Regions from separate parts of the Homo sapiens genome. Here regions 1 and 3 are each reported to be linked to region 2. The links are microRNA targets in miRTarBase. Many come from high-throughput screens and were not tested one by one. Region 2 holds a microRNA gene; each other region holds the end of a gene's coding sequence.
Evidence for each region. The annotated mature microRNA hsa-miR-652-3p reads AAUGGCGCCACUAGGGUUGUG and lies in region 2 at 2,941-2,961, shown strand. An mRNA with a match to its seed (bases 2 to 7 or 8) in the 3' UTR can be bound and repressed. Matches are read on the target gene's strand: a 7mer-m8 pairs with bases 2 to 8, a 7mer-A1 pairs with bases 2 to 7 and ends in A, and an 8mer does both.

Region 1 (5,000 bases), not on the chromosome of region 2:
TGCCCAGGCTGGAGTGAAGTGGCATGATCTCGGCTCACTGCAACCCCTGCCTCCTGGGTTTAAGCTATTCTCTTGCCTCAGCCTCCCGAGTAGCTGGGATTACAGGTGCTCCCCACTGCACCCGGCTAATTTTTGTATTTTTAGTAGAGACGGGGTTTCACCATGTTGGCCAGGCTGGTCTTGAACTCCTGACCTCAGGTGATCCGCCCACCTCAGCCTCCCAAAGTGTTGGGATTACAGGCATAAGCCACCGCCCCCGATCTATGTCCTTTCATTAGCTTCTTCAATGTAAATATTTAGGGTTTCTATTACTATTTATATTATATTTATTTAATACTTTTCCTTTTTTTTTTTTTTTTGAGACGGAGTCTCGCTTTGTCGCCCAGGCTGGAGTGCAGTGGCGCGATCTCGGCTCACTGCAAGCTCCGCCTTCTGGGTTCACGCCATTCTCCTGCCGCAGCCTCCCGAGTAGCTGGGACTACAGGCGCCCGCCACTGCGCCCAGCTAATGTTTTGTATTTTTAGTAGAGACAGGGTTTCACCGTGGTCTCGATCTCCTGACCTCGTGATCCAGCCGCCTCGGCCTCCCAAAGTGCTGGGATTACAGGCGTGAGCCACTGCGCCCAGCCTATTTAATACTTTTTCTATAGCCAGAACTATTTGTGTGACCTCAGTTGGTTCAGGTTAACCTAGCTCTCTTTATTTCCACTTACCCATCAGGTCCAGTGCACGTGCCAACATTACACTGTCAGGGAAGAAGCGCAGAAAACTCCTCCAGCAGATCCGGCTTGCCCAGAAAGAGAAGACAGCCATGGAAGGTGAGGCTGGGACAGAGGTGGGTGAGGGGAATCCTGGATTTATTTGGGATAATACTTCCTTCTTCCCTTTACTCAGTGGAAGCCCCTTCAAAGCCAGCCAGGACTAGTGAACCACAGCTCAAAAGGCAAAAGAAGACAAAAGCCCCCCAGGATGTAGAAATGAAGGACCTTGAAGATGAGAGCTAAACCTCTTCCACTAGAAGATTCTCAACTGGAGCCAGCCTTCAGACTCAGTGGTTGTTTCAGAGGACTTTGACAAAAGCAAGGCCCCTTTTCACTCTCCAGATTTCCTCCTACCTAATGGCCTACTGACCTCCCCTAGAGGGATGTCTTTGGGAGGGAAGAAGGTACAGAAGAAAGATTGGAGAAGGGCCTCTCTAGCAGTCAACTCCATTTGTAATAAAGCCCTAGCACTCTGAGATGTGTGTGATTAAATGTAGGAATGGGGATGGGTCATGAAAAGATTGGGGAGTATGGAAACAAGACAGTGAGGAAGCAGTACCCACAGCTTCCTTGTGCAAATGCAACAAGATGCCAGCCTCTGCCCTCAAGAGTGGTGGTGCCTGGCCGGGTGCAGTGGCTCACGCCTCTAATGCCAGCACTTTGGGAGGCCGAGGCAGGTGGATCACCTGAGGTCACAAGTTCGAGACCAGCCTGGCTAACCCCGTTTCTACTAAAAATACAAAAAATTAGCCGGGCGTGGTGGTGCACGCCTGTAATCCCAGCTACTTGGAGGCTGAGGCAGGAGAATCGCTTGAACCCGGGAGGCGGAGATTGCCTACCGGGGTATTGCTTGAGGCCAGGAACTCAAGGCTGTAGTGTGCTGTGATCTCATCTGTCTCCTTAGTGAGTGATACTCTAACTTTCCATTTATGACAAAGATACAGATTATTCGAGAAGTTGAAGTTACAGTGAGCCAAGATTGTCCCACTGCACTCCAGCCTGGGCAACAGAGTGAGCCATTGTCTCGAAAAATATAGATAGATAATTGTAGGGATAGCAGAGGTAAAGGTCCTGATACCAGTTCTGCCACTGCCTCTGTGTGACTAAGGTAGGCAAGACACCTTACCTCTTCTGTCTTACTTCTTTTGCTGCATTATATTTTCATTTTAATTTATATATATATATATTTATTTATTTATTTTATTTTAATTTTTTTTTTTTTGAGACAGAGTCTCACACTGTAGCCCCGGCTGGAGTGCAATGGCATAATCTTGGCTCACTGCACCCTCTGCCTCCCGGGTTCAAGCAATTCTCCTGCCTCAGCCTCCTGAGTAGCTGGGATTACAGGCGCCTGCCACCAGGCCTGGCTTATTTTTTGTATTTTTTAGTAGAGACAGGGTTTCAGTATGTTGGCCAGGCTGATCTTGAACTCCTGACCCTGTGATCTTCCCACGTCGGCCTCCCAAAGTGCTGGGACTACAGGTGTGAGCCACCGTGCCCGGCCACCCCTGACTAATTTTAAAAAATTTTCTGTAGAAATGGAGTTTTACCCAGGCTGGTCTCAAACCCCTGGACTCAAGCGATCCATCCACCTTAACCTCCCAAAGTGCTGGGATTACTGGTGTAATAATAATAAAAAAAAAACTTTCAGTAAAGAGAAGAGATTAGTAAAATGAGCCCTGGTATATGCCCTCTACTTAGATTTACCAGTTATTAACATTGTGCTACACTTCTGTATCTGCATTTTTCTTGTCCTTATTGAATGAAATCCTTTGAAAGTCAAATATAGACAACATGAAACCTTACTCCTAAGGACATCCTTCTATGTAGCCAAAATACTGTAATCACAGCTAAGACATTTAACATTGATTAAATACCTAATATGTATTTTTATTTTATTTTATTTTATTTTATTTTGATACGGAGTCTTGCTCTGTCGCCAGGCTGGAGTGCAGTGGCGCGATCTTGACTCACTGTAACCTCCGCCTCCTATGTTCAAGGGATTTTCCTGCCTCAGCCTCCTGAGTAGTTGGGACTACAGGCGCCTGCCACCACGCCCACCTAATTTTTGTGTTTTTAGTAGAGACAGGGTTTCACCATGTTGGCCAGGATGGTCTCGAACTCTGACCTCAGGTGATCTGCCCACCTCAGCCTCCCAAAGTGCTGGGATTACAGGCGTGAGCCACTGCACCGGCTATTTTTCTGTATTTTTAGTAGAGGCGGAGTTTCACCATATTGGCCAGGCTGGTCTTGAACTCCTGACCTCAAATGATCCACTCACCTCGGCTTCCCAAAGTGTTGGGATTACAGGTGTGAGCCACTGTGCCTGGCCCACCCAATGGTTTAGTAGCCATGATGATCATTACCTGAATTAGTTATTACTGTGTTACAAAATGGTGATTTTCCAATACTGTCATTCATTCATTCATTCATTCATATTATTCCTATGACATTCTATAAAGAAGAGCCCAGGCCATGCATGGTGGTTCACTCCTGTAATCCCAGCACTATGGACAGCTGAGGCCAGGGGATCACCTGAGGTCAGGAGTTCAAGACCAGCCTGTCCAACATGGTGAAACCCCGTCTCTACTGAAAATACAAAAAATTAGTCAGGTGTGGTGGCCTGCACCTGTAGTCCCAGATACTCGGGAGGCTGAGGCAGAAGAATCACTTGAACCCGGGAGGGGGAAGTTGCAGTGAGCCGAGATCGTGCCACTGCACTCCAGCCTGGGTGACAGAGCAAGACTTTTCAACAACAAAAAAGAGCCCTGCCCCTTTTTTATTATCACTATGAATTTACAGATTTTTTCCAATGTTATAATTTATTGCTAACACTTTTTCATGCTGAAATTATGACAAGTTTGGCAAATAATAGCTTCTTCAAGTTGGTCCCTAAGTCCTTATGACACAACCACAGTATTTGAGCACTTCATTGCTTTCTGGCACAATAATATATTCCAGACTCACCTATTACTTTCCCTGCCTAAGAACTTGGAGTCAGCAATTTCACTAGTAAAAAATTATTATGTCCAGTTGTTTTCCCTGTGCAATATTTCACTTAATGTTCAGTGGTTTTTGTTTGTTTTCTTTTCTTTTTTTTTTTTTTTTTGAGTCTCGCTCTGTCCCCCAGGCTGGAGTGCAGTGGCGCAATCTCAGCTCACTGCAAGCTCCGCCTCCTGGGTTCACGCCATTCTCCCGCCTCAGTCTCCCCAGTAGCTGGGACTACAGGAGCATGCCATCATGGCCAGCAAAGTTATTTATTTATTTATTTATTTATTTATTTATTTTGAGACAGAGTGTTGCTCTGTCACCCAGGCTGTAGTGCAGTGGCGCAATCTCGGCTCACTGCAACCTCCGCCTCCCAGGTTCAAGCGATTCTCCTGCCTCAGCCTCCCGAATAGCTGGGATTACTACAGGTGCACGCCACCACGCCCAGCTAAGTTTTTGTATTTTCAGTAGAGATGGGGTTGCACCATGTTAGCCAGGATGGTCCCAATCTCCTGACCTTGTGATCTGCCGGCCTTGGTCTCCCAAAGTGCTGGGATTACAGGCGTGAGCCACTGCGCCCGGCCTTATTTTTTTTTTTTGAGACGGAGTCTTGCCCTGTTGCCCAGGCTGGAATGCAATGGCATGATCTCGGCTCACTGCAACCTCCGCCTCCCGGGTTAGAGCGATTCTCCTGTCTCAGCCTCTCGAGTAGCAGGGATTACAGGCATGCGCCACCATGCCCGGCTAAGTTTTTTTAATCTTTAGTAGAGACAGGGTTTTAGTAGATACAGGATGGTCTCAAACTCCTGACTTCGTGATCCGCCTGCCTCGGCCTCCCAAAGTGCTGGGATTACAGGTGTGAGCCACCGTGCCTGGCCATTTTTTATTTTTTGTAGACATGGCTTCGCCATTTTGCCTAGGCTGGCCTCCAACTCCTGGGCTCAAATGATCCACCTGCATCGGTCTCCCAAAGTGTTGGGATTACAGGCATGAGCCACCACGCCCGGCTAATGTCCAGTTTTAAACACAGGAGAAGTATTCTTTTGACATTGAACTGGCCGGTTGTGATGGCTCACGCCTGTAATCCCAGCACTTTGGGAGGCTGAGGTGGGCGGATCACTTGGGATCAGGAGTTTTAGAGCAGCCTGGCCAACATGATGAAACCCTGTCTCTACTAACAATACTAAAACTAGCTGGGTGTGGCAGCACATATCTGTAGTTTCAGCTACTTAGGAGGCTGAGGCAGGAGAAT
Region 2 (5,396 bases):
GCATAAACAAGGCTTGAATATTCTAAAATGGCTTTTGCTTAGGTAACCAAGTCTATCCATATTGTATGGAGACATCTTGTTTCATTTATTCATTCAGCAAGTACCTGATGAGCATCTCATATGTTCCAGGCACTGTGTTAAGTTCTGGACCTACAGTGAGGACCATCACACAGCTCCTGCTCTCCAGAAGCTTATGGTCAGCAGGGAAGATCAACATTTAATGAAAACATAGCTAAATATAAATGAGAAATGGTGATATGTGTTGTGAAGGAAAAGAACAGCATTTACATGCATCTGTTTTTTTTTTTTTTTTTTTTTTTGAGACGGAGTCTTGCTCTGTCGCATAGGCTGGAGTGCAGTGGCGCCATCTTGGCTGACTGCACCTTCCGCCTTCCAGGTTCAAGCGATTCTCCTGCCTCAGCCTCCCGAGTAGGTGGGGCTACAGGCATGCACCACCATGCCCAGCTAATTTTTTTGTATTTTTAGTAGAGACGGGGTTTCACCATGTTGGCCAGGATGGTCTTGATCTTTTCACCTCATGATCTGCCCACCTTGGCCTCCCAAAGTGCTGGGATTACAGGCGTGAGCCACCATGCCTGGCCTACATGCATCATTTTTTAAAACAGTGATTAATGGAGTCCCCTTTCCCAATTTTTTAATACAAAGGTGTGGATGGGAGATTTGCAGCAAAGATAGGAAAGCAAAGATATAACCCACAATCTTTACTCTTGCCAACAGCTCTTACCTTCTTTCCCACCAAAATTTTCCTTTGATAAAATGTCTTGCTGAGAGTTAGGCTAACTCACCAACCAGCTTTAATTTTGGTTGACAGGGTGCCGTAGAAGACCTTTGCTAGCCAGACTGTGAGCTTCTTGCAGACAGGAATTATGTCCTGCATCACTGTGTGCTCAGAACCTCAGGAAGAACAAACTGATGTAGGCACCAGGAAATAGGTGCTTTTATTACATTCTCATTTTATGCCTTAGAAGCACTGCAAATGGTAGGTATTCTTATTTCTGTTTTAAACAATGAGAAAACTGAGGCTTAAGGAGGTGTAAAAAATACTTTCTTTTAAAAAAAATACACCTCTCCCCCACCATCATAAAAACCCCAACTTTGGCCATAGAGTTCATTGGTGGTGGAGCACTGCAAACATTAGCTGTCCCATGTGGCTTTGACTCTGACACAATTGGTCCTCTTGCTTCAGGGAACTGGATACCATCCATCCCTCCCATGGGTTGGCCTAGGCTCTGTTACTTCAGAGTTTTCTTGACGAGTTTCAAGGTAACCAGGTCATCCTGTTCTACATATTTTTCTGGGATTGAGGTCAAGGAGCAGCATGATCCTCTCTTAAATGGGTCAGAGGAGGAGGACTCCTGTGGCTCCCTGAAAGGTCAAGCCCCTTCATGCTAACTACACCGTCTTCCCTTCTCTTCCAGCTTATGTCCTGGGCTGGGCTCTGGACAGGGAGCAGAGGCAGATGTGCGCATGTGTTCTGGAGGACTTTTATATGTCCGATGGTGTGTTAGGCACTATGTGGAGTGGAGGCAGAGGGAACTCCAGAAAAGATAAATTATCTTATGGTGGAGACAAAAGGTAGTATTGGCAACAAACATGACCTCTGGAATCAGATAGTTTTGGGTTCCAGGCCTGACTCTTTGACTCACTTATTAGTTGTGCGACCTTAGGCAATTTATTTAACCTTTCTGTAGCTCAGTTTCCTTGTATGCAAACAGGAGGAAAATAATAATCTCTTACATAATAGGATTGCTATGAAGAATATATGAACTAATATGTGTAAGACATTGACTGTAGTGCCAGGCACCTAGTAAGCACTCAGTAAGGAATAACTACTGCCATTATTGTTGTTACTAACAACAGTATGAGACTAATAAGTGATTAGTGTATAAGTACCAACAAATACCAATGGAGTTCAGAAAAAGAATGCTTAATTTTTGTGACTTATCCAGGAAATCTCTAGAGGAGACAGAAGAAGTGGAATGAAATATTCCAGGTGGAGCAAATATGAAAGTGGGAGGCTGAACTGAACTGGAGTGGGGAACAAAAAGAAGAAACAAACGCAACATCTGGCACCCTTGAGCTCTACCACCAGCTCACCTGTTGTCACTACCAATATGTCCAGTCCTTTATGGCTCTCCATTTTGGAGTGCCCTGAATTACTGGCTGCAGTTTTGACTTGGCCAGCTAGTTGGCCAGCTGCTCTGACTGAGCTTGAGGGTGTCTGTGCCTTGGTGGAGTTGACACGGGTCCTAACTCTGCAACTTGGTTTGTAGGTTCAAAGCCTAATTTTTATCAGCTTACCCAGGGCTGTTGGTTTCTAGTGGATTGGGTCACACTCCCCAACATTACAAAACACTTCTTAATAAATCACCAGGCTGATAAGTCGATTGATGATGAGAGAGAGACCTTTATAGAGATGAGAACACTTGTGTGTATCAGCCCTTTCTGATATCAAGGTACCTGAAGCCAAATTAAACAGGGACTGTTTTATAACCTAAAATCAGAACCTAATGGAGTTGAAAAGTCTCATGAGCGAGACCATATAGGCTTTGGTAGTCCATGGAAAACTGTACCTTTTTGCATGTCTGTCATAGCTTTGTAGTGTGACCAGAATGTGTGTCCTGTTCTCTCTCCACTGCTGGAGAAACATCAGTAACAATTTTTCTCTTGGATGTTCCTGTTTTCAATTCCATGCAAATGCTGTTTGTGTGCTATGGCCATGCTATTCTCTTGAATTTCTTTTTTCTTGACAAGATTTTTGAGTTGCCTACTTCTCAGCGACAACATAGTGATTCTCTCATTGAGTGTTCTTTTTGGCTTTGTTCTCAAACACTAGGAATGTTTCCAAGCAGGGCCGCCACGAATGGCTATGCACTGCACAACCCTAGGAGAGGGTGCCATTCACATAGACTATAATTGAATGGCGCCACTAGGGTTGTGCAGTGCACAACCTACACAACTGTACTCGGCGGCCCTGGCATAATGTAATGTCAGTACTTTCTTCATCAAGGTACCAGTTTGGGATTGTCCTCAGGGTAAGGGGGCTGAAGCAGTGAGCTGCTGCTGTGACCAGGAAAGGAAGAAAGAAGTAAAGTTGTGGCTTTGGGAGAATTATCTTCTCTGTAAATGAGAGCCATCATATAGGAGAACTACGTACCTTCGTTCTTTCAGTAAATAGTTTTTTAAGTGCCTACTATGTGAGGGTTGAAGAACAGGGAGGGGTTTGCATAGGAGGGAGCATTTGAACTGGGCTTTGTGAAAGAAGTAGAATATTAACATGTGAAGATGAGTCAGGAGGAGAGAATCTCAGGGGGAAGGAATAGCGAGAAGAAAGACAGATGGGAGACCACAAGGGATATATGGGTAATGGTGCATAATTCATCTTGGTTGGATAGAAAAGCATGTAAAAGGGAGTAGTGAGCAATGATGCTGGTCGGGGGTCAAATGATGATGCAGGAGGGGAGGGAGTTGAATGCCCAATTAAGGAATTTGGACTTTTATTTATCAAGCAATAAGGAGCTATCCAAAGTTTGTTTTTTAAACAGCTTTATTGGGTTATAATCATATACCATATAATTCATTCATTTAAAGTGTACAATTGAATGTTTTTAGTATATTCACATATATGTGCAACCACCACCACAGTCAAATTTAGAACATTTTCATCATCCAAAAAATAACTCCATACGATTTAGCTCACCCCCCTCCCTACCTTTCCCCCACTCACCAGCCCTAAGCAATTGTTAATCTACTTTCTGTTTCTATAGATTTTATCTATTCTGGACATTTCATAGAAATTGAGTAATTATAATATGTGACCTTTTTCCACTGGCTTCTTTCACTTAGTATGTTTTCGAGATTCATCTGTGTTTAGCATGTATCAGTACTTCACTTATTTTTATGGCCAATTAATATTCCATTTTAAGGATATGCCACATTTTATGTATCCATTTGTCTGTTGGTGAGCATTTGGGTTGTTTCTGCCTTTTGGCTATTACAGATAATACTTCTGTGAACATCTGTAAGTTTTCAGGTGCACATAGGTTTTTATTTCCCTTGGACATAGGTTTTCATTTCCCCCAGGTATAGGAGTGGAATTGCTGAGTCATATGATAACTCTATGTTTAACCTCTCAAGGAGCTGCCAGACTGTTTCTCTAAAATGGCAGCATCATTTTACATCCCTACCGACAGTATAAAAGGGTTCCAATTTCTCCACATCCTCATGCACACTTGTGTTTGCCTTTTATATTTTGGCCATGCTAGTGGGTATGAAGTGTCATCTCATTGTGGATTTGATTTGCATTTCCCTGATGACTAATGATGTTGAACATCTTTTCATGTGCATGTTGAGTACCCGTGTGTTTTCTTTGGAGAGATGTCTGTTCAAGGTTATTTATCTTTTTATTGTTGAGTTTTTTTAATACTTTAGCTATTTTTAATGTATATATTTAAGGTTTTCAACTTAATGATTATATATATATATGGAAATCACCACAATCAAGATAACACATGCATTACATCATAGAGTTATCATTTATGTGTGTATGCGTGTGTGTGTGTGTTGGAAATACTTAGGATCTATTCTTATAGCAAATTTTAAGTATACAGTACAGTATTTTCACCTATAGTCGCCATGCTGTACATTAGATATCCAGGACTTACTTGTCCTGGAAAACTAAAACTTTGTACTTTTTGACTAACATCTTACTTTCCCAGCACCAGCCCCAGCTAACCATCATTTTATACTCAGCTTCTATGAGTTAGACTAATTTACATTTCATATTTATGTGACATCATAAGATATTTTTCTTTCTGGCTCATTTCACTTAACATAATGTCCTTTGGGTCCTTCTGTGTTACTGCAAATGATAGGATATCCTTCTTTTTAAAGGCTGGATAATATACCACATTTTCTTTATTCATGCATCCATCGATGAACATTTATCTTGTTTCTATATCTTTGCTATTGTGAATAACGGTGCAAGGAATATAGGAGTGCAGATATCCCTTTGAGATCTTGATTTCAACTGTTGGATAAGTATTCCAGAAGTGGGATTGCTGTGTCATAGAATAGGTCTTTTTTTTTTTTTTTTTTTGAAACTATACTATTTTTGATAATGGCTCTATTGATCTCCATCAGCAGTTTTCCAGGGTTCTGTTTTCTCCACACCCTTCCCAATATTGCCATCTTTTGCATTTTTTATAATAGCCATTCTGACAAGGGTGACATGAGATCTCACTGTGGTTTTCATTTGCATATCCCCAATGATTAGTGATGTTGAGCACCTTTTCATATACCTGTTGTCCATTTGTATGCCTTCTTTGGAAAAATGTCTATTCAGATCCTTTGCCCATTTTAAAATTGGGTTATTT
Region 3 (5,000 bases), not on the chromosome of region 2:
CCAGCCTCCTGAGTAGCTGGGATTACAGGTGCCCGCCGCCATGCTCGGCTAATTTTTGTACTTTTAGTAGAGACAGGGTTTCACCATGTTGGCCAGGCTGGTCTCGAATTCCTGACCTCAGGTGATCTGCCTACCTTGGCATCCCAAAGTGCTGGGATTACAGGCGTGAGCCACCGTGCCTGGCTGCTTCTTAATATAATTATTTATATGTGTTGCCATTTCAGGTCTAAGAAGAGCCACAAGAAGAGCCGGAGAGGGAATGAGTAATGGACTCAGTTTGGTTTTAGTCCACATGGCCTCCTGTGGATATAAGGATATCTGTATGTGGAAGGATTAAGATCTCCCCCAGGCAGCTATAAGAATATTTTAGTTTTTTTCTTATCAAGTTTCTCAACCTTTATTTTTAATGAAGGAGGTGCTGAGTTTTGTATCTTTTTAATCATAATCAACATCAGTTTTTGACCCAACTAACCTTGACTGTATTCAAACTTATGAGAGTATAAAGGATCTGGAGGTTGGGGATATGACTGACAAGGAAAGGCTGTGGCCACCTGATGACCCTTTCCCTTTTTATTAAACCGGACACACCTGTTTCCCATTTCGCTGTAGTTTAGTTTTTGGTTTGTTGTGGTTGGAACTGCTTTGAGAATCCTGGGATTTGTGCTGCTGCTGTTATTCAAAGATCAAAGGAGTAAAACATAGTTGCTCCTAACTTTTTTCCAGCAGCAGCAAGTGGTAATAAACATGAAAACTGGTTTGTAGCAGTTTTGAAAGAATAGAATGCATTCAAATGTAAGGCTGCTTCTGGATCATTAAAGCCAGTTTCATCAAACAGTTCAACAGAGAGCAGCACTTAATACCCTTTATACAGCCCATTTTTTCATAGTTTCATTTGTTCTTGCCCACAAGCTTGAAATCCAGGTTAAGGTATCCAGCCTTTATCATATAAGCATTGACATTATCCAGGCCTAGTCAGTAGCAGTAGGGTAACGGGATTGAAAAAGATTTGATGGAGAGGAAAGTATCTAATATTAGTCATGGTTTTGACCTAAATTGCTAGACAGTCGTGCCATTCACAAAGTCAGAAAATACAGCAGGAAGAGACAGCTTTTAGAGGGGCAGAGAATTAGAGGATGGTGGTAGTAATGAAAATGATGCATTCAGTTTAACAAGTTTAATTTGAGACAGCTATGGTATAGCTAAAAACAAAAGCCCATAAAGTTGGAGATAGGGACCAGAGTTTAACATAGCGATCTAGGCCAGAATTGACAATGTTTAAGTAATGGTGGAATCTGTCAATAAGACTTCCCAGAGTGTTAATATATATCAGAAATGCACACAACAGAACCATAGGCAACACCAACACAGGAAGAAATAGAAGTCACCTATTGAAAACTGGAATGGCCCATTCAGAAAGACAGGAGAATTAGGAGAGAGTGAGTGAAAGAAGCCAAGGGTCAAGAATGCAGAAGCAAAGGAAGGACTAAAAAGCCTCCACGGACATCGATAATCAAGAGATTATTAAGATCTTTGCTAGAAGAGTTCCTTTACCTGTACTTAACTCCCTTAAAAAGAGAAAAGTGATGGAATGACTTCTGCAACTGTAGTCCCAGCAGGAACTGTGAAGACCAGCTGCCCTGCAGGATCCAGTTTTTCTTGGGAGGTTGTATCTGGTCATAAGGTAAACATTCTATATATTCTATGCCTGCTCTAGAATTGAAAGACTTCAGCAGTATTAAAGCATTTTTTAATCTTATTTGAGCTTTCATATTCTTCAATGGTTCCTTTCGTAATACCTGAGTTAATAAAAGTGGTCTGAAAGAGCTCTTACGGTTTCTGATAGAACTATATAGGACTACCTTTTAAGATTAAATATAAGCATCTGTACGTAAATGTATTACAGTGTCATAGCAGTTATTTCTTTATGAAAGTGATCTAGGTAGAAAGAAATGTCTTCTGGCATGGACAGAAATGACCCATGGACCAACCAAGCTGTCATCCAGTACACTCTTAAAATAAAACTTTGTCTTAAAATATGTTTTAAAGTAAAAATAAACCCACGCACAAAGCCCAATAAATTTTAGTAACAGAAATAAACCTCCCTAAACAAACATTAAAACATACTTGTTTAGACATATGGTAATATGTGGACCAAAATTGAGGTACCACAGCCAATCAATAGCAGGAAAGAGAATGTCCCTATTCTTTAATTAGAAGAAGGAGGTAAGAGTAAGACATGTTGCATGTCTGTAGATATCGTTTTGATAAAATTACACAGGAGATGGAGCTTGAGGACAAACCTTGCTGTAAGGCTCTTTCTGTCATCTATGTGCTTGCCTATGGATGAAGCATTTTAAACTTTTTGACTACAGCATACATTTTAAAAACGTATTTTACATCTTACCTCTGTACACATCTGTATTCTGTACTGAGACAAATTTCAGGAAAGAATACTTACTATGCAAAGTGAATTCTGGTGTTTCCTACTTGTTAACAGTTTTTAATATTGGATGAAACCACTTAATCGATTTCACTTCCAATAATTTGAAATACACTGACTTAAAAGCTTTGCCATAGGGCACAATCGCCTTTTAATACTAAGAAAGTAAGGGAGATGTGTTCCAAGGGGCAAAAGAAATAATGCATTTTTGGCCAGGTGCGGTGGCTCACGCCTGTAATCCCAGCACTTTGGGAGGCCGAGGCGGGCAGATCACCTGAGGTCGGGAGTTTGAGACCAGCCTGGCCAACATGGAGAAACCCTGTCTCTACTAAAAAATACAAAATTAGCCGGGCATGGTGGCGCATGCCTGTAATCCCAGTTACTTGGGAGGCTGAGGCAGGAGAATCGCTTGAACCTGGGAGGCAGAGGATGCGGTGAGCTGAGATCGTGCCACTGCACTTCAGCCTGGGCAAAAAGAGCGAAACTCCATCTCAAAAAAAAAAAAAAAAGAAGAAGAAGAATGGGTTTGGTGAGAGGGTTCCAATATTAACAACCCAACTTCAAGCTCATTCCTCTAACCTCTTCCTGTTTGTTATTCTTCAGTAGACCGAAGTTTAAATAAGCATTATTTAGAAAAGAACGATCACAGATTGCCCACTCCCTCAAAAAGGTTAATGTGACAGAAATTCTCCACCTGCTCAAAAAAGACAGCAGACATGATCTCTTTAAAAAAAAAAAGTTCAAAAGAGATTAAGAGATGAAAAATAAGATTGGTGGAGTTTAAAGGCCTTATACTAGAAACCACAAAACATAAAACAGCACAGAGAAAATAGGCTGGAGGAAATAAAAAATGGAAAAGAGAAATATGTAGAATAAAGAAATATTCTGATGGTTTAAAAAGAATTGGCCGGGTGCGGTGGCTCACGCCTGTAATCCCAGCACTTTGGGAGGCCGAGGCAGACGGATCATGAGGTCAGGAGATCGAGACCATCCAGGCTAACACAGTGAAACCCGTCTCTACTAAAAATACAAAAAATTAGCTGGGTGTGCTGGCGGGTAGAGCTACTAGGGAGGCTGAGGCAGGAGAATGGCGTGAATCCGGGAGGCGGAGCTTTCAGTGAGCCGAGATCGCGCCATTGCACTCCAGCCTGGGCAACAGAGTGAGACTCCGTCTCAAAAAGAAAAAAGAATTAAATGGGGTCAGGATGGTCTCAGATCTTATAACAAGAAGGCAATGAAGCAAAAGGCTCCAAAGGTTTGAGAAAAAGTGCCAGGAATTTTATACTTTGCCAAAGTTGTCTTAAAATACAAAGGCTATAGATGTTCTCAAGTTTGTAAGAACTTAAAAGTACAAATCATGAGTCTTTGGGAAAAAACCGCCCAATAATGAAATTCAACTAAAGAAGAAATGAATCAAATTAAGGACTTAGGAACAAAGAATCAGTAAAAGGAGTGTTAGTAAACACTTCAGAAACTTTAAAAATAATGGGCAATGATTATAAAGTCAAATATTATGAACACTGTCTATATAGAAATAACAAGTAGAGTGTGCTGGTTTCATCTTTCATAGCAGGAATCACGTACAGTCTCTAATTAAAACATACATGAAGCTAGAAAAAAAAATAGCCTCTTTATTGTTTTCCGTAATTGTCCTTAATTTTAGGAGAAATCTTACAAGACTAGATTCTCTTGTGGGGAAAAAAGTATTTAAATTGAGCATTTTTTCAGTTTCACACTTGTTTTCCTTTTGTTAATTTGCTATATTTGTTAAATATAGCATATGAGCCCACTTTTGTAAAACTATTTGTATATATGTGCCTGTATGATTAAGAGAGATGGTTGGAATGAATGAAGTTCACCAGATAGTACTTCTTTCTGGCTGATGAACTTTTGAATGATTTTTAAACTTTGTACTTTTATATAATGCTTATTTTCTTTTTACAATAAACATGTTAATTTCTACAAGGAAGAAATGAGTTGTTGGGAGTTAAAAGCTTTTTTATAAGCATACCAACACATTTTACGTATTGTTTGCTGGAACTACAGATTGATAACCACTTTTATGAAGGGCAATTTGGCAATATGTAGCAGGAACCTTAGGACTTTTGATCCTTTTACCCAGTAATCCCATTTAGGGGAATTTACCCTAATAGAATAATTACATGTACACACAAATAGCTTTATCCCATCATCATTTTACACATTACATATATAATATGTATATATAAGAATAACTGGAAACAGCAAAAATGTCCATCTGTAGGGGATATAAACAAATATACAGTACATATTTATATTTTTAATAACCCTAATGTCAAGGGAAAATACTAATCTCCATGTCATTAAACAGAACATTTCAAAACAATTTGGTCTTAAATGTGTGTGTTCTCCCTGTATAAGATTGATAATTTTCTACTTAACTGCTCTACAATGAATCTGAACTCATAATCTACTTTGCAGACTTAAAATCTGAGTTTCTACTATATCAATTTTAAACTATATGTTTTTCAACAGAACAGTTTTGCCAATTATTGAACACTGGCAGTTACTGAAGGAGGGG

Region 1: miRTarBase lists LBHD1 as a target of hsa-miR-652-3p. The part of its 3' UTR that is shown has no 7-base or 8-base seed match.
Region 3: miRTarBase lists PRPF38A as a target of hsa-miR-652-3p. Seed matches in the 3' UTR shown: 7mer-m8 at 3,571-3,577.

What each region holds. Positions count from the first base shown.
Region 1 is chr11:62,659,053-62,664,052 of GRCh38, reverse strand. It overlaps LBHD1 (LBH domain containing 1), which reads left to right. Exons shown (of 7, transcript NM_024099.5): 6 at 720-817; 7 at 894-1,236. The coding sequence ends at 924. C11orf98 (chromosome 11 open reading frame 98) reads left to right here. Exons shown (of 4, transcript NM_001286086.2): 3 at 720-817; 4 at 894-1,236. The coding sequence ends at 1,003. Among named protein-coding and RNA genes, the nearest start is that of C11orf98, 3.7 kb to the left of the region's middle.
Region 2 is chrX:110,052,449-110,057,844 of GRCh38, forward strand. MIR652 (microRNA 652) reads left to right here and starts at 2,881; the gene lies at 2,881-2,978. The region is part of intron 2 of TMEM164 (transmembrane protein 164); the gene reads left to right.
Region 3 is chr1:52,416,424-52,421,423 of GRCh38, forward strand. It overlaps PRPF38A (pre-mRNA processing factor 38A), which reads left to right. Exons shown (of 10, transcript NM_032864.4): 10 at 225-4,413. The coding sequence ends at 267. Among named protein-coding and RNA genes, the nearest start is that of PRPF38A, 14 kb to the left of the region's middle. RefSeq lists a silencer at 434-728.